Linked DNA regions of Homo sapiens: all the other regions are linked to region 3. The links come from fine-mapping of genetic effects on gene expression. A gene starts in region 3. Each other region holds a variant in brackets. All regions are shown on one strand. Distances are between the middles of the regions. Region 1 overlaps PDGFC (platelet derived growth factor C). Region 2 overlaps PDGFC (platelet derived growth factor C). Region 3 holds the start of PDGFC (platelet derived growth factor C). Region 4 overlaps PDGFC (platelet derived growth factor C). Region 5 overlaps PDGFC (platelet derived growth factor C).

Region 1 (5,109 bases), 35 kb before region 3:
ACTAACACATGACTTTACAGAGAAAATATGTGTGTTAGATAAGCTTCCTTCAGGCATGAATTATAGTGCCTTGTGCTTAATGTTAATGAATCACCAATATACAGTCATGAGTCACTTAACAACTGGGATATATTCTGAGAAATGTGTCTTTAGGCGATTTTGTCATTGTGCTAACATCATAGAGCATGCTTAAACAAACCTAAATGGTATGGCCTATTGCACACGTAGGCTACGTAGTACAGCCTACTGCTCCCAGACTACAAACCTGTCAAGCATGTTATTGTACTGAAAACTGTAGACAATTGTAATACAACGGTAAGTATTATATATCTAAACATAGAAAAGGTACAGCAAAAATACAATATAAAAGATTTAAAATGGTACACCTGTATAGAGTTCCTACCATGAACAGAGTTTACAGGACCGGTAGTTGCTCTCAGTGAGTCAGTGAGTGAGTGGTGAGTGATTTTCAGGCCTAGCACATTACTGTACACTTTTGTAGAATTTATAAAGGCTAAATGCTTATGCTACACTAAATATATTTGTTAAATATTTTACTTTCTTACATAATATACTAGCCTTAGCTTACTGTAACTTTTTACTTTATAAACTTTTTAAATTTTTTAACTTGACTCTTTTGCAATAACATTTAGTTTAAAATACACATTGCACAACTACACAAAAGTATTTTCTTTCTTTATATCCATATTCTATGTGCTTGTTTCTAATTTTAAATTTTTTTTATTTTGTTTTACCTTTAAACTTTGTTAATGAAAAACAGAAGAGACAAACACACCCATTAGCCAAGGCCTTCACAGGATCAGGACCATCAATATCACTGTCTTCCACCTCTATATTTTATCCCACTGGAAGGTTTTCAGGGGCAATAATAGGCATGGACATGTCATCTCCTATGATAATAATGCCTTCTTCTGGAATCTGTCCTAAAAACATACCTGAGGCTTTCTTACAGTTAACGTTTTTTTGTTTTGTTTTGTTTGTTTGTTTTTCAGATGGAGTCTCGCTCTGTCCCCAGGATGGAGTGCAGTGGCATGATCTCGGCTCACTGCAACCTCTGCTTCCTGGGTTCAAGCGATTCTCTCCTTCCTCAGCCTCCCGAGTGGCTGGGACTACAGGCGTGCACCACCACGCCCAACTAATTTTTGTATTTTTCATACAGACGGGGTTTCACCATGTTGGCCAGGATGGTCTCGATCTCTTGACCTCATGACCTGCCCGCCTTGGCCTCCCTAAGTGCTGCCATTACAGGCGTGAGCCACCATGTCTGACTTACAGTTAACTTTTTAAATATGAGTAATAGGAATATACTCTAAAATAATAAATAGTATAGCAAATACAAAAATCAGTAACACAGTCATTCATTATCTTTATCAAGTATTATGCACTATACATAATGTTATGTCCTACACTTTTACAGGGCTGGCAGTGCAGGAGGTTTGTTTCCACCAGCATCACCACAAACATGTGAGTAATACACTGCACTACAACATTACAACAGCTACAACCTCACTAAGGGATAGGAATTTTTCAGCTCCATTAAAATCTGATGAGACCACTGTCATATATGTGGTCCATCATTGACCAAAACATGGTTATGCAGCACATGACTATATATTAAATAAGATGTCTTTATACAGAAACACACATAAAATAAGGTTTGTATTGATCAGCTGACGAATATGTTGTGACCAGGAACTCGCAGGAACCTAATCTTGTAAGAGCCATAGCAGCAACAGTTCATTATTCATTAATTTAGTGTTTGCAATGGCTTTACAGACCATCAATACCATGAAAAATGAGACTACACTGTATATGCTAGATCTTGTGTTAAACAACATGAATACAAAATTATACAAGGTCCCTGCCCTCAAGGAAATTAAAATGTCAAGTACACATTTTATAAAATCTATATACTGACTATTTAGGGGTCATAGACAGGGGAGGAAAAAACCTGACAATTGCTAGAACGAAAATACATGTGAAGTTGTAATTACAAATCAGTATCTTTCCTCTTC[C/G]TGTTATGGTCATTGGAGATTAATATTAAAATATAAATAAGCACTCTCTTTGGTTGGTGTCAGAAAATACTAAAAACACCTTGCTACTTGCTAGCTCTGTGACTTCCCATCACAGTTGGATCTGTCTTTTAGTGAAATCAGTATCCACCCAACGTCGTAATAGAATGAGTTTCAAAAAGTATCTTTCTTCAGGTACTATGAGGAGGACCTTGTTCCCCTAGAGAGTATTCAAACTTCAAACCTTGACTGCATCTCAAGAATGGATCAAAATTGGGAGAAATGGAAACTCTCAGAGGAGAATTTCTACCACATTTCAGGTCTCTCTCCCCCTTGGCCTCCACCTCTCAACTCATTCCTAACCAAAGGAGAGGGAAGAACTAATACAATTAGTTGGTTTAATAAATGATTACTTTGTCTTAAAAAATACAACAACAACAGTTTTTTACCCTTTCTCTGGAACCTACCAATCCCAGCACTCAGCTTTCTGTTCTTCTCCATGTATTTAGATCATGAGGTAGATGAAGAGTGTAGGATAGAAGAAACACTAGAGAAGAATCAGGAAAAGGCAATTGGAAAAAGAGGAAATATTTGAAAAGTCTTGCAAAGGAACTTGAATTTATCCAAACGCAAAGCAGAGCTGTGAAGAAATTTTAAAAGACTGACATGTCGGACACCATTGTTGATGGATGGGATGGAGTAGACGAATGGAAGAAGAATGACAAATTAGAGATTACTGCAGTAATCAGGAATACTATCGTATTGCCTTGAACTAAGCAGCAGAGGGGACTGAAAGGAATGCCTAAGGTATGTCAACGAAGCAGCAAAAACAGATCTTGGAAAACATTTGAAAATAGGAACGAAGAAGAGGGACTCAGGTTTCTGATGTGAACAATTTGATGAAAAATATTATGCTCTATGCAATGGAATTCATGACCAGAACCAAATTTAAGAGCTGAGAAATAAGATCAGTTTTGAACATGTCAAACTTGAAGCACTAAGGGAACATCCACGTAGACAGCACTGCACGCATATGGACAGATGAGTCTGAGTGAAAAAAGCAAGGTGTGTGCTGAAAAAAGAGATTTGAAATTATCAATAAATACATGGTTATTGAAGCCATAGTGATAGAAGGCATTTCTGAAGAAAAGGATATACTAAGAGAATGGATCAAGGATGCAATCTTGGAAACATCATCATTTAAAGCATTGATTCTTGTTTCTCAATAATTTGAACGCATAAAATTATGTCTAAAGCTGGAAAAAATCTTGTTATCTTTCCACCGCAAACCCAATATGAGGTATTTCTTCTGGAGACCACCACAATGAAACCCTAAGTGAAGATTCAAAGAAATTACTTGAATAATTAAAAATAAGAAAGGTGGTCAGGCACGGTGGCTCACTGGTAACCCCAGCAATTTGGGAGGCTGAGGAAGGCAAATGGCTTGAGCCCAGGAGTTCAAGACCAGCCTGGGCAAAATAGTGAAACCCCATCTCTACAAAGAATACAAAAAATTCATCTGGGCATGGTGGCAGTTTTTAGTCCCAGCTACTCAGGAGGCTTGAGGTGGGAGGATCACATGAGCCCCAGGAGGTTGGCGCTGCAGTGAGCTGTGATCGTGCTACTGCAACCTAACCTGGGCAACAAAACAAAACTTTTCTAAATAAATAAATAAGAAAGGCATATTCACCTATCTGAACATGGTGGAAACATATTTTCTAAAGTGCCTGAAATCTCTAAACTATTTCCTGTGTTTACACAATACAATACAACCCTAATATTGGTTGAAAGGCAAATGTATTTCAGTAGCAACTTGATTCATGGTGGAAAAAAAAATTACCTTAAGATAAAGTTCTTTAGAGAATAATGAAGAAATTACAGAGAAACAAAACCAGGGACTAAAAATTCTTCTCAATTTTAATAATGTGCTTAATATTGATACATTTACAACCTACTAAATTAATATATTAAATTTGTGTAGTATCAGGTTGGCAAAGATTGGGAGAATTATGCCAAATGAGGTGAAACAGTACTTTTACATACAGATTTCTTACGAAAGGACAAATTTTTACAATTTTAAGTTAGTTTGTTATATGAAAATACACACACACACACATACATAACATACTAGGAAAAAAGGTAAAATTTTGATCCAATCATTCAAGTTCTAGGAAGTCACTCTAATGAAAGAAATATAGAGATATGTAAAAGGTATGTAGATACCAAGGTATTCACTGTAGAGCAGATCCTAAGCGCTAAATAAAAAAATCCTAGAATCCAATCATAACGTGCTGATTAAATAAAACTTAAGCTGTGTAAACTTAAGTTAGAATCCATGAAGCAGTTAAGAACTGATGACATGACCAATGGCTCTTGATCAGAGATTCATGGTCCTGGGACCCATAAAACTTTATACATTTTCTTGCAGATACATTTTTTGAGGGAAGGAAATATTCCATAGATTTCTTTATAATATCAAATGATCTAAAACAGTGTAAGAACCATGGCAATAACAAGTCAATATTTATATTTAAAAAACTGACAAAACTCAGATTTTAAAAAGCATGTTTAATAACATACATATAAAATTTCATGTTTGTAAAAAATAAAGATATGAGTAAGTATTCATATGTAAAAAGTTATAAAAAGCTGTGTAAGAAAATATTAAAAGTGGTTATTTGCAAGTGAATTTTAGGCACTTTATTCAAAAGGAAAAATCTAAAAGTTATCTATGATCTGTATATTTAATACTTTAATGAACATACTAATATAATAGCACAACAACATTATAAATAATATAAGTAAACTATTATTAATATAAATACAATTTATTTTATATTGTTCAATCCTTAGAAAAATAATCTAAGTATTAAAATAGGTATAGTAATTTTAAATTTTAAAACCAAATTCACTTGGAGTAAAAACCACAATCCCATCAAATATCATAATTCCTATTAACAAGAGGTCAAAACCAGTACAGAATACAGCCCTCCTTGGGTCTGCAATTTGTGATTCAGTATTGTCCATGAATGCATCCAAACAATATAATGGCTTCTCTCTCAGCCTTAAGATGAAT
Region 2 (5,109 bases), 190 kb before region 3:
CTGACCATTTTCCCTACTTCCATTGCTGCCACTTTACAATTCAGGCCAACATGTGAAACAGTCTTCTAACTGGTCTCCCTGTTAAACAATGCCTTTGCCATTGTTGTCTGAATTAAATAACAGAAATTTACACATTCTACAACAAATGGTCAATAGAGTATTAGTAAAAATACCAATTACTTTTCTAGAAAAATATCCTGCTTTTAAATTTCAAACTTAAAAAATGGCCTTTATTTTAAACATTCTATAGATTATTCACAGTGGAACTCAATGGAAGGGCTTTGTACAGATTTCACAAGCCTCGGTTAATGCAGTATGCCTCCTGCAACCTGCCATTCATCCCTCCCAGGTACATTTTATCCTGTCAGAAGGCACTCACTAACTCTCCTACTGCTGACAATGCAAACAGTACTCTCTTCTTCAGGGTAGGGGAGGCATACCTACCAGCCATAGAAAATGGGGCGTTTGTCAAAATTACATGGTGAACACCTCATTTATGTGTGTGTCTGTAGGAACAGGTATTCAAAGGAGGGATGATTCCACCTACCTAGGAAAACTGGTATAAGGATTAAGCAAAATAGCATATTTTAAAAATTTAATAAACAATTCAGCACTATACATATTTAGGGATTATCATACACATTTTTATTATATATTTAATTACCCAAGTTGTACCAAGTTTAGCAAAGATAAATAATTATTTTAAAAAATATAGCTCATGATTGATGTTGGTCTGTGTTACATGGAGTGGCATGACCTCATTAGGCAGCGTTCAATGACATCTCCACCCAACATTCTTTCTAGACTGATGTGGCAAATCAGAGCTTGTCCAACCCTACAAGGAAAATTCTGAAACAGACTTCTTTCTCTTCTAAAACAGATTTATATTCAGTAGTTGTTCTGGAGGGAGAAATGGGCATTACACATCAGCAAATTAATCTTTATGGCTACGAATACCTCTGTGCTAAAGAACTTAAAAAATAAGCATAATGATACCCTTGGCTGCTCACTTATCCTATGTCGGTTTTCTGAATTCATATTCTTTGCCTATAAAATCTTTATATGAAATGAAACCAACAAAAAATCCTATGCAAAATGCAGGATTTCAACTCTGAGGCCCACCATGTCACTGGTATCTTAATTACAGTGTACGGTGTTACATTAAAAGAAACTTCTGTAAAGTAACTAGTTAGCATGCCGTTCCTATTTCAACAATGGAGAAAAATATAAATGATAATTATTTTGTGAAGTGTTTGGGCATTTTTTTTACATTTTTAAATCACTCTGTGACATCCCTATTCTGCCATAAAATCTTTAGTACTCATGCACAGATCTGAACACTTTCAAAAAATAAAAGCATAAACAGTTATATGTTCTTTGGTCATGTTTTTACATGTCGGTCACCACACTAAAATGAGATTGTGTCTCACGGTCAGAATTCTGGGCAGGTCAAAACGATCACCAGGGGCAACAGAGAACATAGAATATTTTTGTGAAAAGTTGGTACGGTCACCTCAAACACACCTGAAAAGGCTTCTTCTATTGATACAAGCAAGATATGGCTCTGAAAACAGGGTTAGATAAAAAGTTAAATCATTCAGTAGACTATATTATACTCCTGTCACGTGCTCACAACAAATGAAGAATATGAATAATATAGCCATTGTGAGGTTCGTATCTCTTGATGGAAAAACCTGTGTCCTTTAGGTAATGACTATAACGGAAGTAAAAACCCAAGTGCTGTGAGTGTGATTAATTCTGCCTAGAGAATTAAGGAGGTGATACAAAGAAGAGATCAAAGTTAATCTAGAGCTTAGAGAATTAGAAAGTAATTATTATATAGATTAGAAGGGAGAAGCACTTTAGATATTTACAAAGAAACTGAGTTGGAAAAAAATGGTGTTGGGTGAAGAAAAAGATGAAGACTGTGACAAAGCATTGCTATTAGGGGGAGAGTAGATGGTGGAAGGTGAGGCTGCAGGAATGAATTGGGGTCTGATTGGGAAGGCTTTGTGTGTGCCATGCTATGGAATCTGGATTTAATCACAAAGCAGTACAAGAGTCAAAAGAGATGTTAAGGAAGGTGGGATACATACAAGTTTAATTTTTCTGGCTTTCTACTTCTATTTTAGGTGAGGAGGTGCCTTGGGTTGGGAGAAGGGGGTGTGCAGACTCTGGTGGGAGCCATGAACAAGGCTTTGGCATCTGAACCTTTGCTCCTGATGTTGCCCTTTGTTAATAATAACTGCTTTTATTGCCTTGTCACATGGCTAATCACTACCCACTAATAAAGACTCAGCTTCTCCAGGAGGCTTCCACTAGTGAGACCTCTCTCTATATATACACGACTACCTCTAAGCTGGTCGACCTTTGTGATCCACCATTCTGTTCATATGTCTAGCACTACATCAAATTGAAATTGTTGTACGTGTCCCTCCTACTTGCCTCGAAGTTCTTTCATGGTGGGGCCAAATCTTGATGTCTTTTGGATATTTTGATCTCCAATAGTATTCAGGATCTGACAGAATATTAATGAAGTGCTAAAAAGAGTATGCTTTATGATCTGATTGATTACCACCATTGAGGAAAACAAATGAAAAGAAGGGTGGCAAAGTACATGACCATGGTAGAACCAACAGGATTGGTAGCTGGTGGGATGGGGAATCAGGGAGAGAAGAGATATGCTTAATTTTAAATGATTCTAGCTTCAGGGAATGCATTAACAGTGACATAACTATGTAATACAGGCAAAATTGGTAAGAAAGAAGGAAAAGTTCAGGTTGGGTCAATTTATAATAAGTGGAGGTGTATTGACACGCATATATCCAGCAGACAACTGCAAACATTTTTGTGGCATTAAATATAGAGGACTCACTTGGAATAGAGAAAGATAATCATTAACATATACAAATGTCAAATGTTAAAGCCATGAGCTAAGAGCACACATGAAAAGAAAAGAGGATAGAAGACAGGAAAATGGGATTTCCCCATACTTAGACCAATGGCCAAGGCACTGGATCAACCAGCACTGGTGTCTCAAAATAGATCAATCTAAGGGTCGGGAAGAGAGCCTGGAGGTCTTAGTGATTTTTCCTCCCAAGGAGAAGAGAGTTTTGAGGAGTAGAAGAGGGAGAATAACATCAAAGT[A/G]ATGGAAAGATCAACAAGAAAGAGGAGTAAAAGTAGGCCACTGTAGCTATTCCACAGGTGGTGTTCTGTGACCTTAGGAATAGAGAAGTTTCATCGAAGTAAGAAAGGAAGAAAGGGGGCCGTTAAAAAGCAGTGAAATGGAGAAAGCAAGTAGAACTTTTTCATTAAGTTTGGCAGGGAGAAAAAAATAAGAAAGAATCATAGATTTATGAGAAGAAAGATTAGAAAAAAGCTTAATATAATAAGTACAGAAATACGTGTATATTTGCAATTAGAAAAGAAGGCCAATGAATAAAAGAAATCAGAAGACAGAGGAGAGTTAATGTCAATTGTAGATCAAGACGGGGCAAAAATATTTTTCTCATGAACTGTAAAGAAGACTAAAATGTCAAAGTATTTCTGTAAGACAATTCAACAATATTTTCCACAAGCAGTCTTAAAAGTGTCCATTTTTTCAGATCCTGTAATTCCATATTCAGAATTTTTATCTTAAGGAAATAATCAGAAGTATAATCCAAGGATAGTCATTGTAGCATTATTAATAGAGAAAATTAAAAATAAAATTTAAAACAAATGTTCATAATTGGAAGGCTGTTAAATAAATGATTACACTTTATGTATGTACAGTGGTCCATTTTATTCTCAATAATTTTTAGTGTACATGAGAACAATGTAGAAACTTTGATCCCTAACAGCTCAGGGATATGATTGCCACTGTGATATAAACTATAAAGCAAACAGGATGATTCACATTCTGCATAGGCAGAGACTAAGGACACCCAGGCTAAGATCTTACTGTTCTGAATTTTTTTTTGAGACGGAGTCTCACTCTGTCATTCAGGCTGGTGTGTGGAGTACAGTGGCGCAATCTTGGCTCACTGCAACCTCTGCCTCCAGGGTTCAAGGGATTCTTCTGCCTCAGGCTGCCAAGTAGCTGTGATTACAGGGGTCCGCCACCACACCTGGCTAATTTTTGCACTTTGTATTTTGTATTTTTTAAAGATGGGGTTTCACCATGTTGGCCAGGCTAGTCTCGAGCTCCTGACCTCAGGTGATCTGCCAGCCTCAGCCTCCCAAAGTGCTGGGATTACGGATGTGAGCCACTGTGCCCGGCCCTAAGTTTAATAAACTTCTAAAAGTAGATCCATCAGTTCTCAATCTGATATGCAAGGAATCTACTGGGTGCACAACAGTCTGGAAAGGGAGCAGCCAGCATCAGATAAAGGGGTGACTGAACAGCATTGTCAGTACAGGTGAGAGATGACCGACTCTTCAAAGTGTAACATTCATGCAGTTACAAAAGGTAAAATTCTATCAACTAGGATCAACTTACGGGACTATTAAAATAATGCACATTTTTTTCCATGTAGAATCTAATGTCTACATTGGGCAGGGCTAGAATACTCAGGAGGTGCAAAGTCACAGTGAGATTTAATAAAGTTCTAGGTCAGTTGATCAATATCTTCCCACAAAGTTCAAGGTCAATTGAAAAAATATCTTCCTACATTCTTTTCTTTGCCTTGTTCTTTACCCTGCCCCTCTATTCTGTATCGCTTTGCCCTAAGTGTACAATGCTCTGAAATCATCTTTATTTCCCTAAAACTTTCATTGCTTCAGCTGATTTCAGATACGGTACTGTGAAACTAATCACCATTACCCTAATCAACATAATATGATCATTCATAACCACACTAATAGGCTCTTGATTATCTATCTTGTCACCATTTATGTAATATATATTCATTTGCAATAAATACATACTGAGCAACTAATACGAGCCAGACACTCTTCTAGGTGCTGAGGATCAAGCAGTGAACAAAAGAAGTAAATATCTCTGCCTTTATGTAATACATATTCTATTGGAGAAAAACAGACCATGCACAACATAAATAATGCACATACAATGTTAGATGGTAAAGTGTATTGCAGGAAAAAAGTAAAAGCAGGAAGAAGTAAAAAGTA
Region 3 (5,109 bases):
TTAGCTGATAAATGTGATACTATGTCTTGCTGCGCAACAGCAAATACAAATAACGTTTGCAAAAGTCGGCAGAATCCTTATTTTATCTACTTTTATACCCTAAAACTTTCTGTGCTTTCTTAAACATGAACACTTCATAGAGTTTAAATTCAAAGTTGAAGTCTTGAAACACCCCAATATGAAAAGGAAAAAAAATCACTCTGACTTAAAACTATAGCACATCCTATCTTAATTTTGTAGGTATGCCACTTGTGTTCATTTTGCATGGTTAATCAAGTGACAGAATCCTTGCATTCTGAATAGATGATATACAAAGCAGTAAAAACATGTATATTCCTTTTCAAATTACAGTAAGAGCCACCATTTGTAAACAGGGCGTTAAATATTCCAATTTTAGACAGCCTAACATGAACATTGTGGTTTCATGTGCAGTATAAAATTTCTATTTACAAAGTATTCTCAAAAATGACTTCATAATGGTAGATGAAGAGAAAAAGAGTTTAGAAATTGAATGATGTAAATCATATGGGTTCAGAGGCTAAGCAAATTACACACCCTGAAGCTGCCCTGGCTTTATGAAAGGAGCCTTTCTCCAGCTCTGTGCAATCCCAGCCCAAGGGAACTTGCATCTGAGAGTTTTCTAAACATTTCAGGTACACTTGAAAGCTGAAAGTAATTCTCATTTCCTATGCAGGATTAAGTCGTTTCCAGCACACACAAAATAGCAGTCATTCACCAACACATACAAAAACACACCACCAGAAAGGTAAGGACTTCAGAGTACAAAGGCAAGTTTAAAAAACAAAAACTAGGGAGCAAGAGAAATACACTTTTTAATTCCTCTAAAAACGACCACACAGCCTCTTGACCTCTATATTTCCTATCTACTCATTGATTAATTGATGACTTCGACCTAGAGTGCTTCAATTAATGCGGCTGATATATTTCCTGACCGACCCCCCTCGCCCTCCCCAAATCTGAGTAAAGTCAAACATGCCAAGGCTCATTCATTTTGGATTCGTTTTTAGAGGCAGTTCTTGAACTTCTAACTTTAGCAATGAGCGAACCTGCAATGTGCATTTGAAATGACGTTCACAATCGCTCCCAGAATGTCCTCACTCAGCAGTGGCACTCACGTTGCCCTCTTGGAGCTTTGTGGCAGCTCCCGAAGTTGCAAACTACACTTAACCTTTAACAGTCCATGCCAATGAACGCAGCGCACATTTGCATGTAATGAGAGACCAAAGATACCTTCACAGTCTGGTATATATCACATACCAACGCACAATGCCAACGTTAACACACACAGCGAGAAACAAGCAGGGGGAGAATGGGGGAAAGACTCACCGTTCTGTTCCTTGTTGCTGGAAAACTGGAATTTACTACTCAGGTTGGATTCCGCCTGAGTCCCCTGTCTCTGGCCGGCCAGGGCAGATGTCAGCAGGAGAAGCCCGAAGAGGCTCATTTGGCTGACTGGGGTGAGAGCTCACTCACGGCGGGCACTTTGGAAGCAGCGACTCCCGAGTCTCTTTCACCACCGCCAGGGGAAGGCTGCACTGGGGTGGAAGCGCCGAGCCTGCTCTGGCAGCAGAGAATCGCAGGGTAGTTTCCACATAATCCCATCCAAAACTTTTTCCTAGAGCCCTCTTCTGTGTCTCCAGTTTTTGAAAAGGATCAAAGCAAAACCTGGACCTGAACCAGTTTCCCAAGGTTTAAACAAATCCTGAGCTGTGGCGAAGTGGTGGGGGTGGGGGTGAAGGCGAGGGAGGAATGAGGGGGTGGGGACGCGGGGGAGCGGCGAGAAGTCCCCAGCAAGTTGCTGGGAGCACCTGTCAGTTCGGGGGACAGGACAGAGGCGAAAACTCAAGGGTTGCCCGCAGCCAGACTGGAAGCCAAGTCGGCGGCGAGCAGTTTCTGATCAATAACAAAGCTGCCAATAGATGCGGCTCTCCGGGCGCCCCTCTCCCCCGCCCCACCCCCCACCCCCGAAGGGGGAGGGGGAAGAAACAAGGCGAGGGCGCCGCGGCGGGTCCCACGGGCCGGGGCGCCGGAGCGGGGCCGGGGGGCTCCGGGCCGACGGCGGCCCGGGCGCAGGCGGAGAGAGGCCGCGGGGCTCCCGCTCCTCAGCCCGGAGCGCAGTTGGCCCCGGGTTCGGAGCGCCGCAGCACGGATTCCGGCACCTGGCTTGAGTTTTCCGCGACCAAAGTTCACCTTGTTCGGGCTCGTCCCCCGCTCCTCAAAGCCTGGGGCAATTCGGCCGCTCGGGGTCACCGCGGGGCTCCGGTTGTTCCCCGTCCCCTCCCCCCACGCCTCGGGCTCCGCGCTAACCTCGGGGCTACGCGCGGCGTCTCCGCACGGGGTGAAGAGGGAAGGCCGGGGCGGCCGGGAGGATCCGGCTTGTCCCCTCCCCTTCTCTACCTTCCCCCCGCCGGGCGGCAGACAGGAGGTGGGGGCCGTGGGCCGAGCCCGGGCGGAGCGCGCGCCTGGCGAGCGGGGGCGGCTCAGCGGCTCTCCCGCAGGCGGCCGATGGGGCGGGCGGGGGTCAGCGCCTCTGGGAGGGGCAGCCCTGGGACGCGTCCGCGCGAGCGGGCTTGGCCGCCCACTGGCTGTCAACAGGTGCTGCGCAGACAGGGGGTGCTGCGGGACTCGCTGTGGGCAAGACCCCGGTGGCCCAGGAGAGGAACGCGGCCAAGGCGGCCCCTGCTTTCCCTTCCACGGAACACCTCTAACCCCAAATACAGAGCACGATGGGTGGTGAAGGGTGCTGCAGAAGTAAGTGGGAAAGAACTTCCTGCAGCTCTCCTTCTCCCGCCCCCTGTCGCCTGACTTGTCATTAGTTTCCAGGAGGGCTCCCCACTCCCTAAGGTCTTTGCTAGGACCCTTGGCCAGAGTTTCAGAACAGAAGGAAGAAGGGAAATGAATTCAAAGGCTTTCCTCCAATTTCCAGCTCCGTAAAGCAGGACAAATAAAGCAAAAGTAAAGGCAGCCAAAATAACATCCATTTAACAAGTACTATATTTACTGAATGCCTACTATGTCGGGCACTGTTTAGAGGTTGGAGCCGTAGCAGTGAAAACAGACAAAAGTCCCTGCCCTCGTGAAGCATACGTAGTAGTTGGGCAGCATTAAGCTAATAGCAAGCTCTTCTGAGAATGGTGTCTAAGGGACTCAGAATGATCCTGCAACCTTGGACTTTCCTACAATACAGCCTCTAACAAAACTAGGCTGCCCTGAACCCCTGGTGATAGAATTGTTTACATTTACACCAAAAAGGTCGAGAAAGAACTGAAATCTCTTGTGGCTTGTGTTCAGGCTGACTTGGAGAGAGAGGCCGATGCTTTAAGACCTAAAGTTCTCATGAGGTAGTCTGAAATGAAACACACATGCCAAGCAGGGCTTATGGTGGTTCCATGTCTGCTAAATATGTCTGTGACAGGATCCAACGTGCTTTCTTTGTGGAGAAGCAGAAAATCATTGTCAATGTGTTAAAGGCACAAGCAGAGAGTCAGAAAAGTTGAATTTTAAAATGAAGCTATTTTTGAGTAATAATCAAAATGAAAACAAGGAAGTGCCATGGCAGGCAAATCAGCAATATCACCCAACTTCTTGTGGAAAAAAAGTCAATGCAAACAATTCGACCATCAAGAACACTTGGGCTGGAACAGAAAACCAAAATAGCAATGTCCCTGAAACTAAGGAGTGGCATTTGGGCAAGAACATATTCTTACTGGACCAAACCAGGGGCTGATCCTTCTTCAGTGGTGAGGAAAATGCCAAGCCCTCTTCTTATATGCGAACACCAACTGGGGCCAACCAACCAGACCTTTCTGCTTGGAATATCCTAGTCTTCTTGTTTTTCCCTTTTAGAAACCTTTGAAAACTTCACCCATCTGTCTCATTCTTGAAAATTTCACCCGCCTGTCTCATTCATTCATTCTTATCCCTTTACCACTTCTATCTACAGAGTACTAAATATACACTAAAGGCAAATAAGGCCTGATCTTTGACTTTAAGGCATTTACAGTTTAGTGGACAGAAGGTTTTTTATCAAGTATGGTATTTTATTCGAGTTAGCAGCTCCACAACACCAGTGTGACTCCATATTTGCATAATGTGTTCCAAAAATATTTTGTAAATTTGTGAGGGTGAAGGGTTATTCCCAATTTTAATAACATAATGGGACTTAAATAAAGGGCATGCCTTATGAATCCATTGTAATCTATTTTTCATAAAATTCATTATTCTCCAGTTTTTCTAATTTTGTAAGTTTAGTTTTCTAATCAGCACTTTTCTAAATGAAATTGTTATATGTCCATATAGTTGAGTTTCCTGACCACCCACATAGAGGTGGGGTGTGTGTGTGTGTGTGTGTGTGTGTGTGTGTGTGTGTGTCTGCAAATGTAATCCATTTGCTCTCAGGAGATTGGAAGGGTGATGACTACTCTTTATTTTGTATCATTTCATATTGGCTAGAATATTGCTTGGCACAGGGGGATAATAAATAAACACTCTTGACTGACTGACAGGTTTCTTTATTGGAGTCACTTACATTCTCCCTGGAATTTCAGTGCGATAGTTGTATTTGAAAAGTTACAGATGATCTAGAATAATACTCTACCTCTGCGTTTCACCTCATCCATATTCTACAGATTGATTTGACAATCGCCTTATAAATAAAGTCAGCCAGGTGTTCCTGAATGACCCCTAGACAAAATCACATCCACATTGGCCAATTTCCTTTCAATGTACTTGCATTGTCATTTCTTGAACTGCTCTTGCCCTTGACGTAGTTGATTCTTTTAACACATTATCCTCTGCCTGTCTTCCTGCTCTATTTTGCTTGTTAACCTTTTCTAGAAAAATGAAATCTTTGCATTGAAAGTAAATTTTATATAATCCAGAGTCTGTGCAATTACTAAACAATATATTTTAAATGAATATGGCTTTGTTTTGGCCAAAGGCATTTTCCTTGATGAAAGGCATCTGTTCCGCCAACCAAGAGAAAATAATTTCAGACATTCTTTGTGGTTTTCATGTTTTCTTAAACCTTAAGAAGGAGTGCCCATTGCTGCTGCATGCATGAAGAGTATTACCACAAATTCTTACTAA
Region 4 (5,109 bases), 200 kb before region 3:
GCCAAGAAGTTGCCAAGTTGGCCTATATAGATCTTCTAAGTCCAACTGCCATCTCTCTGGTTCAAGATATCGAATAAGGTCTTCCAAGGTACTAAAGGCAGTTATAGCATTATTAAGCAGGTCCAGTGGCAAAGCTGAAGGGGGTAGCACTGAAGGACTCACAGCTTCTGTGAATTGCTGAAAGTAAAATGAATCCTGTGTTAACTGTTTTAAAAACGACAATGTATTCCTTCTGGACATATGCAAGAAATTATAAAGACTGAGGCTGGAAATATGTGTGAAGGGAAATTGTATTGAATCCAATTAGAAATAACTACTCTGCAAAGACTTCATGAAGATGAACTCTGATAGATTTCCTGTAAAATCAATGAGAAAGACATTAATTTTCATTACCACCAACCGTGAGGGATATGGATATCTTTTGGTCATATAAAAGAATTAAAAATATCTTCATGGTTCAATTACAAACTTAGAATGAAAACTATAATACAGTTTACCAAATTTTCCTTTTCTTTTCCACTTTTCATTTTCCTTAATCTGAAAAATTACCTGGTAGTTATGCAAATTAGTGTCACATAAATTAAAAATGGAATAAGAAATAATTAACCCAAAAGATCTAGAACAAAATAGTTAGAAATCATTTGACATTAAAGAACTTATTAATCAAGATAGAAAATATCTAAATCATAAAAGATCAGCTTAATAAATTGCCTACAATATATTTTTAATATAAAATGCCTAATAAACAAGATTAAGAGATCGGAGGGACACTGGAGAACACACTGACAAACTATGTGACTGTCATAAGATTAGTATCCAGAATATACAAAAATAAAGACAAATGCAATGGAAGAAAAATGGGCATATTACAGATAAAAAGCTTGAATGGTCAATAAACATATGAAAATATGCTGAACTTCATTATCAGAGAAATCCAAAGAGAGATATTATTTCACATACGAAAAAAGGATACTTTTTCACACAGATGAGATGGGCAAGAATTTTAAAAAGGATTACTGAGGATGTGATTAAATTGGAACTCCTCTGCTCTGCCTGCAGAAGTTAGTGTACGTAGGCACAACACTTTAGCTGATGTAACTGATAAGCACTGAATATTCTTTCACTTATGCACATGGAAATATGTTCAATGATTAGAAAGACTGGAAGCAATCTAAATGCCCACATATAGGAAAACACTAACACATCGGCTCTTCCTTTTCATTCTCATTACTTCCATCCTGGGCTCCATACTAAAAACATGTACTATAAATAGCAGCTTCTAACCTTATCTCCTTACCTTTAATCATTTTTCTCTCCTTTTGTTCTATGCTGCATAATCCTGGGTTAATCTACTAAATAAGATATTACTGATCCTATGATGAATTTGGACAAATGCCTATGTGATTTCTCATCTGGAGGATAAAATCCAAATTCCTTACACAGCATTCAGAGCCCTCAAAAACTGACCTCTGCTCACCTTCCACTCTAATCTGCTACTCATCAGAGACATGCATATTTTGTTCCAATCAGTCTAGTCTCTTCACTGACTACTGCACATATAATATCATCTCAGACTTTGTAACTTATGCTAAATCTGTCCCCATACCTGACATGCAAAAACTCTCCCCCCGTTGATCCACATCATAAATCTTTACCATTACAATGACCTTTTCAAAAATCCAATTCATCCATGAAACCTGGCACAACAGGGTCATCACTGTCCCACAGCCCTCTGTGGGCTGCTCTGTGAGCACTTGGCTTGAAGAGCAGAAGCTGCCCAGTAAACTAGGAAAAGGAGCACCTTTCCTCTGGACAGGCACAACCCTCGTGGGGCTCCTGGCTTTGTGGGTGTCCCGCTGCCCACAGGGGAACATTCTTACAGGGTATAATCGGCAGAAATGAACGTGGCAGCCTTGGGCCAACAATGATTTCATCCTTTTTTTTTTTTTTTTTTTAACAAAAGTTTATTGAGTAACTACAGTGTTCCAGGGCCTGTGTGTGCATTATGAGAAAAGCACAGTGGAATGACAATGTCTGGCCTCCTTCCTTGCCTGGATTACTCACATGTACTTTCCAAGTCTCCACTCAGCTGTTACTCCTTTCATCTTTTTGTTTTTTAAATAAGTTTTATTTTGTATATCTGAGGTTTATGACATGATGTTACAGAATAAACAAAGATACGCAAAGATACATGGAAAATGTGTAAGTACATATATATACAGTACAATGGTTACTATTAAAGACTTAATTTCAATAATGTCAAGGATCTGGCTAAAATATTAGGACTAAGATATTTTCTAATTATTTTATGATATTTTTGCTCTACCCATTAGTCTGTTAAACTTTGAGAGTTTATTACCCTAATATGTTTTTATTACCCAGTGTTTTCTATAATTGTCCAAGGAACACAAAATTGCTTTGACAGAACTATGACTGAAAACTCTATTATAGATATAAACATTGATCTAAAAACGGTTTTAATTTTAATTTAGCTAATTAAGCTACTATTGATTAAATTTATGGTGTAAAAAGTTAACGCAAATTTTTGCATATTTCAAAAATATAAGCCTATATATGTATACAAATGTTTTATAAAGTAAAAATTAAGGGGTCAATAATAGTCAAAGAATCAGTATTATTACAAATGGAAAGTTTCAAAATCTGTACAGATAAAATAAGTGGTTGCTAGCAAGTTAATACAAAAAGTATACATTATTTATTAAATTGTCAGGGTGCAGATGTATATTTTAAGCATAAAATATAATTG[C/T]TATGTAGGGTAATTTCAATTAGACTGTAATCCAAGAATGATTTGGCTTATTTTGCTTCCAGTCTGTTGGAGACTCTCTGAATAAAGCATTTCTTTTGAAGCAATACAAAGTTCTAACTGAAATTAATATTGCTGAGATGCAGTCCAAAATATTAACACAAAAGAAGGCAAAACAAGATAAGCCTGTAATAATGGGCAAACAAAAGATGCACACCTTAGGTCCAGTGAAGTATCTGCAATCTGCATACCCATCCCTTCAAATGTGAAAGGTTGGGAGAAAAGCATCTTCTGTTACTGTATGTATAGATCAGTTGGTGTTACAAATCTCTAAGCTTCTAAATATTTAAATTAAAATTTGATAAATTTAGAAAGACAACTCTTTCCCCACCACACCCCACACACAGTGGTCCCCACCCAGAAAACAGGAAAGAAGAATGAACATAAGTTCCCAGGATTCAAAGAATCAATCCCTGGACAGAACAGGGGAAGTGGTGCTTCTATTTAAGGGCCTTCTCATGACTGTCCCTCCACCCACTGGTTCAAGAAAGAGCCGAGTTGTTCAGTTTCAAAGTTCTGCTTTTCTAAGTTGTTTAAAGGGACTCTCAGAGAGAAAGGGGGGAGCAATGAAAAAAAGAAGTTACAGAAAAAAAAATGTCTTTGAATTTTTAAGTTTTACTTTTCTCTCTAACAAAGTAACACTGTTCATTACAGACTAATAGCATTTTCTCCCATAATTAGTATCTAGAAAATTCTAACAATACTTTTGATATTTAAAAACACTTATGATTGGGCTGTTAAACTGGTTAGAATATGCAAAATACGCCTTGACTTGGATTTTCACATTTCCTGTTTATGTCTTTTATTCTTCATAAAAATATGATGGTGTACTTTTAAGCTATAGGTTGTGCTAAGACAATTTAGTGGATAGCAATGGACACAAACCGGAAGCAGAGTTTCTTGGTGTTCTGCAATGTAGACAACTAAACCAAAACCCTTATTCAGCCAGAGAAAAGCTTCTGTGTTATCACCTGCAGGGCAGTAATGACAAGCTTGGTGAGGGTGTGGCCCTAGCCTAGACCCTTTTAGGCCTATTACTTTGTAAGGACAGGTTGTCAAAGAGCAGAAAAGCATCTACAATCTATGTGATGAAGTGTCCTGCCAAAGAGTACATTTCTAAGATGTCAGCTCCATGAGATAAGGATCCTATGCAAAATCGGGTCTTTAAAATTCTCTGATGAAAGTTACTCTGAATGACAACATGATAATGAGAGAACTACGATCAGGAGTTAAGGAACTGGACTCTAAATCCCAGAGATACTCACATGTAGGGAAGAGAGTTTGACTAAACTGCATAATCAATCTGTGCCTCAGTTTCCTCCACTACAAAATATGGTAGCTATATTCAATGACCTTCAAGTTTCTTGCCAGCTTTTACATGTAAAAATTCTACTTAATTATCAGATACAAGAGGGTCCAATACAGCTTCAGCAAAATTATCTTGAGAGCTTCAAAAATATAATAAACAACTTAGTAAGTCTATAATGGGACTGAACTCTATTTTTTTTTTCTTTTAACTCTCCTTGTTGTTTTAGCAGATGAGTGAGTTTTGGGAAACACTGCCCTGTGGTACAACTGTGGGATAATTCTACATTTACATATATATATAAAATTTTGAGAGTACATGAAGTTTACCCTGCTCTTTAAGACATCAAATATCCTAGAAAGGCATGTCTGGCTTATAAATAGAAGCAGTATGGTCCTAAAAATCTGAAGGAAACAAGTCCGTGCTTAGAAAACTGATACCAAAAATGTTTAAATGAATATAGACACACGTTGTATTATGGGCTGAATTAGAGTTCACTCAAAATTTCTATTCTACTAAAGTCCTACTCACAGTATCTCAGAATGCCTGTATTTGGAGACAGGGTCTTTAAAGAGATCAGTAAAATAAGGTAACTAGGGTGGACCCTAATCTAACATGATTGGTGTTCTTATAGTAAGAGAACATTTTAACATAGACATAGTAGAGAGGGAAGACCATCTGAAGACACAGGAAGAAAATGAACATCTACAAGTATAGGAGAGAGGTGTCAGAAGAAACCAAACCTACTGACACCCTGATCTCAATTTCTAGCAACCAAAATTTTGAGAAAACAAGTTTCCATTGTTTAAGGCACCACTGTTTAAGTCTGTGGTATTTTGTTAAGGCAGCCCTAGAATGCTAATACATGCCATCAACTTCTCCACTTAACTATTATAGGAGCAAACAAAGGATAATATTACACCATGTCTGTTCAATCATTCAACAAGCATTTATTTAAAAACCTGTAAGGGCTCACACA
Region 5 (5,109 bases), 65 kb before region 3:
GTACCTCCTCAGCAAATCCTTCCCAGGCTGGTAAAATAGTACCTGCCAACAGGTGCATTTAGGTTCACTAACCCTTTATTCTTGCTTTATTTTTGTTTTTGGCACTCATTACCAACTGACATATCTACACTTAAATGTTTACTGATTGCCTATCCCCACTGCAAAGTAAGGCTCAGTGACAGCAGAGAATTGATATGTTGTTTGCTGCTGAATTGCTGGCATATAATATTTGCCCAATAAATATTTGCTCAATACAAGCACATGTTAAAAATAAAATTACCTGGAGATCATCTCTTAAAAAGAAAATTATCTTTTGAGCTGATGGAACACTTGCTTAAATTCCTGTATCTTAGCATTACACTGGACACTATGGGATTGGTAAAACCAGATTCTGTGCCTCTTGCACATAAGGGAAATACAAAAATGATCAAGAAGCTGGAGCTGGGATCATCTTGAGATAGGCTTAGATTGAGAAATAAATACTAATTTCAAATATAACCTTCAAGCTCTATTGAATGAATTAATCATAATTCCTTAGCAAATAAAAGTTTGGCAATCTGAGAGCACCTACTGAATAATGACACCATATTTTGAATGTCCCTTATATGACAGACACTGTTTTTGATGTTTTATATTCATGACTTTACTCAATTCTCAAAAAAAGCCTCATAGTGACCATAATATCACTTTTGTATTATATGTGCCAATTTATAATCATTTATGTTTATTTTTTTCTCAAAGATGAGATAGTTGCCCATAATGTGCAATGCGTAAACTGAAATCATGACTCAAGGAGATTAATAAAGTTAACCCAAATAACACAGAGTTTGAAGTGTTAGAGCCAGGATGCATACCCAAGCCTGTGATTTCAAAGCTTCACATTCTGTCTAAAATACATTTCTGATCAACATTTTCCAAACTATCAAGCAGTTCAACCTGGAGTAGAAAATATGTCTCTAGTTCTCTCTCCTGTCAACCATTCAGAATATCTGCATCTAATCACTGCTTCATTCTCAAAGAAACACTATTTGCCCAGATACCAAAGTAAGTCTATCTAGAGTTTGAAGGGCTCAGCTTTATTTTAATTACATTAGAAAGATTATGCTGTGTTACCCAAGGGCTTACATCTACACGCAAGACCTACATTCTAGATCTGAAACAATAAAGCAACATAATTGCCATGTACTATATCACATTTAATATACTGTAGATACATCACCTCAAAAATACATCCTAGCTCTGCTTACAAGCCTGTTATGTAAAGTGTCAGTGACCAAAAGCAACAGATGAAACCCAGTATTAAAAGATGCTTCATCAGATACTTGTGTAAGTATACACAGAGATATACATTTATAATCTATACATATGCATGTTTATGTATATATGTTATAGATGACATATAACACACATTTTACATACTAGCACTTCTGAAGTTATCAGAAATTTTCAAAACAAGTAAGAATATTTTAAAAACAAGAATATTTCAGAAGTTCGGTGTACCCAAACAATTAAATACAAATCACTTAAAAATACTGCTTGCTCAGGTTTCTTAATGTCATAAATTTTGAATACGACAAATTTAAGCTTTCTCTGCCCTTTTTTCCATTTCAATTATATCCATTGTTAAATATAGTAAATTCAATTTCTATTCCATTGTTTAAAATTCTTGAATGTTTATGGCTCATGGTGAGGAGTGGTTTGGCTTATTCTTTTATGTAGTGTAAAGTAGGAATAATCACTTTCACCCTTTGATTTACTATATTTTTATAATCACTTGTAAAACGTGATACAATGGGATGTAAAACTATAATTTTAAGAGTAGACAGATGAGTAATAGGAGTTGACTTCCTGGTTTTTCACTACATTGTAATTAAGAATTCCTGGAAGGTAGCTTAGGGGGACAGTTTTAAAAAAGATTTATGATGTACTTTTAAAAATCTTGAGCACGGACAAAGGTTTATCTTTGAAGTTTTGGGATATAATTACAGCATAAATAGACTTCTGGTTCATATTGCTCTTACAAGAGCATTTCCTCTTTGCAGACTTAGGTTTCTGGCTACTCTAGTCATTGTTCTGAGGGAGTCACAACAAAAATTAATAAAAGTTAATCATACGTTTCCCTTAATTTCTAGAATAATATCTGATATTCTTTAATTTTACACTCACTTCCAAAGAAAGCCTCACTGGTAATAGAAGGCTGGCTTATGCTGGGATCTCAGCTCTGCCCCTTCCATTTCACCTTGCATGGATACACTGATGAACTAACATGGATGCAGCCAAAACATGTTTTATAACAGAAATTAAGTCTTGCAGGAAGAAAATGTACTTTTGTCTAATAAACAAATAACAATCTACTGTTTATGAAATCTGTTTATTTTACTCAGAACATGTAAATACTTGGAGCCCAGTATCTTAGATTAGGAGAATATACCACCACCATGACTTAAAAATAAAAATGGACCAAAAAGAGATTACTGATAGACTTTTAAAGAGATGTTTAAAATGCATGCCTTGTTAAGTGACACCTGTCTTTCACATCTTTGTAATGTAAAAAATAAAACCACTGTTTTTATACATGTTGATTTTTAGCCAGATTTTCTTACATTAGCACCTAATTCTAATCATAAAACACACATTTGCTAACAAATGAGTGAGATTACATAATATAAAATGCATGCCAAAAATGCAAACAAAAGAAAATCCAAGGATACAAAGAGTTTACTTTAGCAATCTACACCTGGAGAAAGGGAACATAAAGGTTTAAGGGTTTCATCTCTTAAGATGAATGAGATAAAGATTGTTTCACCTGAATTTGCATCTTTCAATTCACCTCAATGTCTAGAGACATTGAGGGCCCCCCACTCACTAGTCCTCATGGTTGAAAAGAATCTTCGAGGGAGTTGGGACCTTCAGACTTGTGTGTCAAATCTCAGTC[G/A]GTGGGTGGAGCTCTTGCCAGGCCTCTGGGTGTGGGCATCTCAAGATGGATGTGGTGGTTACCTATAAGCAGGCATGTGCTAGGCATTCCTGGCTGTGACTGGGGGTCCTTCACCTGGGATGAAGTGGCCCTAACCTCTTGGATTGAGCCTCCATGCTGGCTAGGGCTTGTGTCCTGAAGCAGATGCCCCCACACTCCAGGTCACCAAACATGTCCAGTCCTTCCTACTGTCTCCTCCAGTGTTATATAAAAGCAGCAGCTTGGCTGGGTACAGTGGCTCACATCTATAATCCCAGCACTTTGGGAGGCCAAGGCAGGAGGATCACAAGATCAGGAGTTAAAGACCAGCCTGGCCAATATGGTGAAACCCCGTCTCTACTAAAAATACAAAAATTAGCTGGGCATGGCGGCATGCACCTTAGTCACAGTTACTTGGGAGGCTGAGGTAGGAGAATCACTTGAACCCAGGAAGCGGAGGTTGCAGTGAGCCGAGATCGTGCCACTGCACTCCAGCCTGGGCGACAGAGTGAGACTCCATTCCAAAAAAGAAAAAAGCAGCAGCTTTCCTTTATATCTCATTTAACAAAACAAAGCTTAGCTTTAAGGCAATAATAAAATATTAATAGATCAATAATAAAATATTAAGAGATTTATGATGCATTATCACATTATTCTAATTACCTAGAGTAGTTGGTGTCAATATATAATACTTTGTGAAAGGCAATTTACTAGATAATTTACCTCCTTTATTTATGCTCATTTGTGTAAATAAATAAATAAATATTTATTTCAATCTAGAAATGCCAAATTAGAATTAGAATATTTATATAAATGATAATAGCTGCCAATTAGTAAAACAGAAGTATGGCATTTTTTCTTATTCTAAGTAATACAAAGAACAAACTTGGCACTAGGAAATTGTCATCACAACATTGGACAAAATAACCTATGTGGCAAAATGTTAGTAGAACTGTGATGATATCTTACCTCTGCTTCTGCAAACACCCAATCCTTTCAATGACCTCTTTCCCATCCAGTAATTCTGTGTTGACTTCTGGCTACCTAAACCTACCATACATTTAATTATTCCCATCCAAGCCAGTTATCTCTTAATATGACTTGTGCTTGAAATTATAGTTCAATAGACTTATGTAACAATCAGACAAGTGCAAGAGTATTATTCATAATACCCAAAAAGTTGGAAATAATCCAATGTCCAACTAATGAATGGTTGAACACAATGTGGCATATGTATACAAGAAACTATTATTCAGCCATAAAAAGGAAGAAAACACAGACATATGCCACAAATGATGAACTTGGAAAACATTATGGTAAGGGAAAGGAGAAGTCACAAAAGACCACACATATACAATTTCATGTTTGTAAAACGTACAGAATAGGTAATTTCTACAAAGTAAATCAGTATTTGCTTAGAGAATAAGGCATATGGGGGAATAAATACCAGCATTTGAGAGAATAAGGAGGTGACAGCTAACGAGTATTACTTTTTGAGATAATGAAAATATTCTGAGTTTGAGAAGAGAAAAATATTCTAAAGTTGCACAACTGTGAGTATTCTAAAAACAATGTAATTGGATACTTTAAATGGGTAATTTTATGGTATGTGAATTATATCTCAATAAAGCTATTATTCAGACAAGAAATTCCTAAAATAAAGTGAAATTTGCTTTTTATAAAAAGCCATTCCACAAGTTCATCTACCTAAACTTCTCTAAAGTTGGGACAAACAGAATTCTCTCTTAGCATTGCAAATATTATGGCCAGAAAATAAACTTCAGAGGAGAAAGTAACCAAACAAGTGAGCCAGAAATACAAACACATTTGGGAGAGTGTAATTTACATCTGTATAATTATAAGTACATGTCACTCAGTGAACTACTACTATATTTTCCTGGAAAACTGTTTATGAAACAAAGGTAAATAGGAAAGATATAAAACATTAGATATAATATGATCTCATGTATACACACATGTATTTCCACAAATATCCACATACAAATACATTCCAATGTTAACAGTGGGTTTTCTCTGAACAATAGAATTATCACTGATTTTCTTTTACTGTGTCCTTGACTACTGTAGTGGGCTGAACAGTATTCCCTCAAAGATATACGTCCAAGTCCTAACCCCTTGAACCTGTGAAAATGAAC

Evidence for each region.
Region 1: its variant is fine-mapped to the expression of PDGFC in whole blood (INTERVAL, PIP above 0.99).
Region 2: its variant is fine-mapped to the expression of PDGFC in blood mononuclear cells (TOPMed, PIP 0.92).
Region 4: its variant is fine-mapped to the expression of PDGFC in whole blood (TOPMed, PIP 0.95).
Region 5: its variant is fine-mapped to the expression of PDGFC in whole blood (TOPMed, PIP 0.96).

Annotation. Positions count from the first base shown.
Region 1 is chr4:156,934,005-156,939,113 of GRCh38, forward strand. The region is part of intron 1 of PDGFC (platelet derived growth factor C); the gene reads right to left. Among named protein-coding and RNA genes, the nearest start is that of PDGFC, 35 kb to the right of the region's middle. The variant C/G (reference allele first, on the strand shown) is at 2,037.
Region 2 is chr4:156,781,252-156,786,360 of GRCh38, forward strand. The region is part of intron 3 of PDGFC (platelet derived growth factor C); the gene reads right to left. Among named protein-coding and RNA genes, the nearest start is that of LINC02272, 140 kb to the left of the region's middle. The variant A/G (reference allele first, on the strand shown) is at 3,148.
Region 3 is chr4:156,969,439-156,974,547 of GRCh38, forward strand. PDGFC (platelet derived growth factor C) reads right to left here and starts at 2,361. Exons shown (of 6, transcript NM_016205.3): 1 at 1,348-2,361. The coding sequence starts at 1,465. RefSeq lists an enhancer at 2,148-2,648.
Region 4 is chr4:156,772,717-156,777,825 of GRCh38, forward strand. PDGFC (platelet derived growth factor C) reads right to left here. Exons shown (of 6, transcript NM_016205.3): 4 at 1-177. Among named protein-coding and RNA genes, the nearest start is that of LINC02272, 130 kb to the left of the region's middle. The variant C/T (reference allele first, on the strand shown) is at 2,768.
Region 5 is chr4:156,904,690-156,909,798 of GRCh38, forward strand. The region is part of intron 1 of PDGFC (platelet derived growth factor C); the gene reads right to left. Among named protein-coding and RNA genes, the nearest start is that of PDGFC, 65 kb to the right of the region's middle. The variant G/A (reference allele first, on the strand shown) is at 2,936.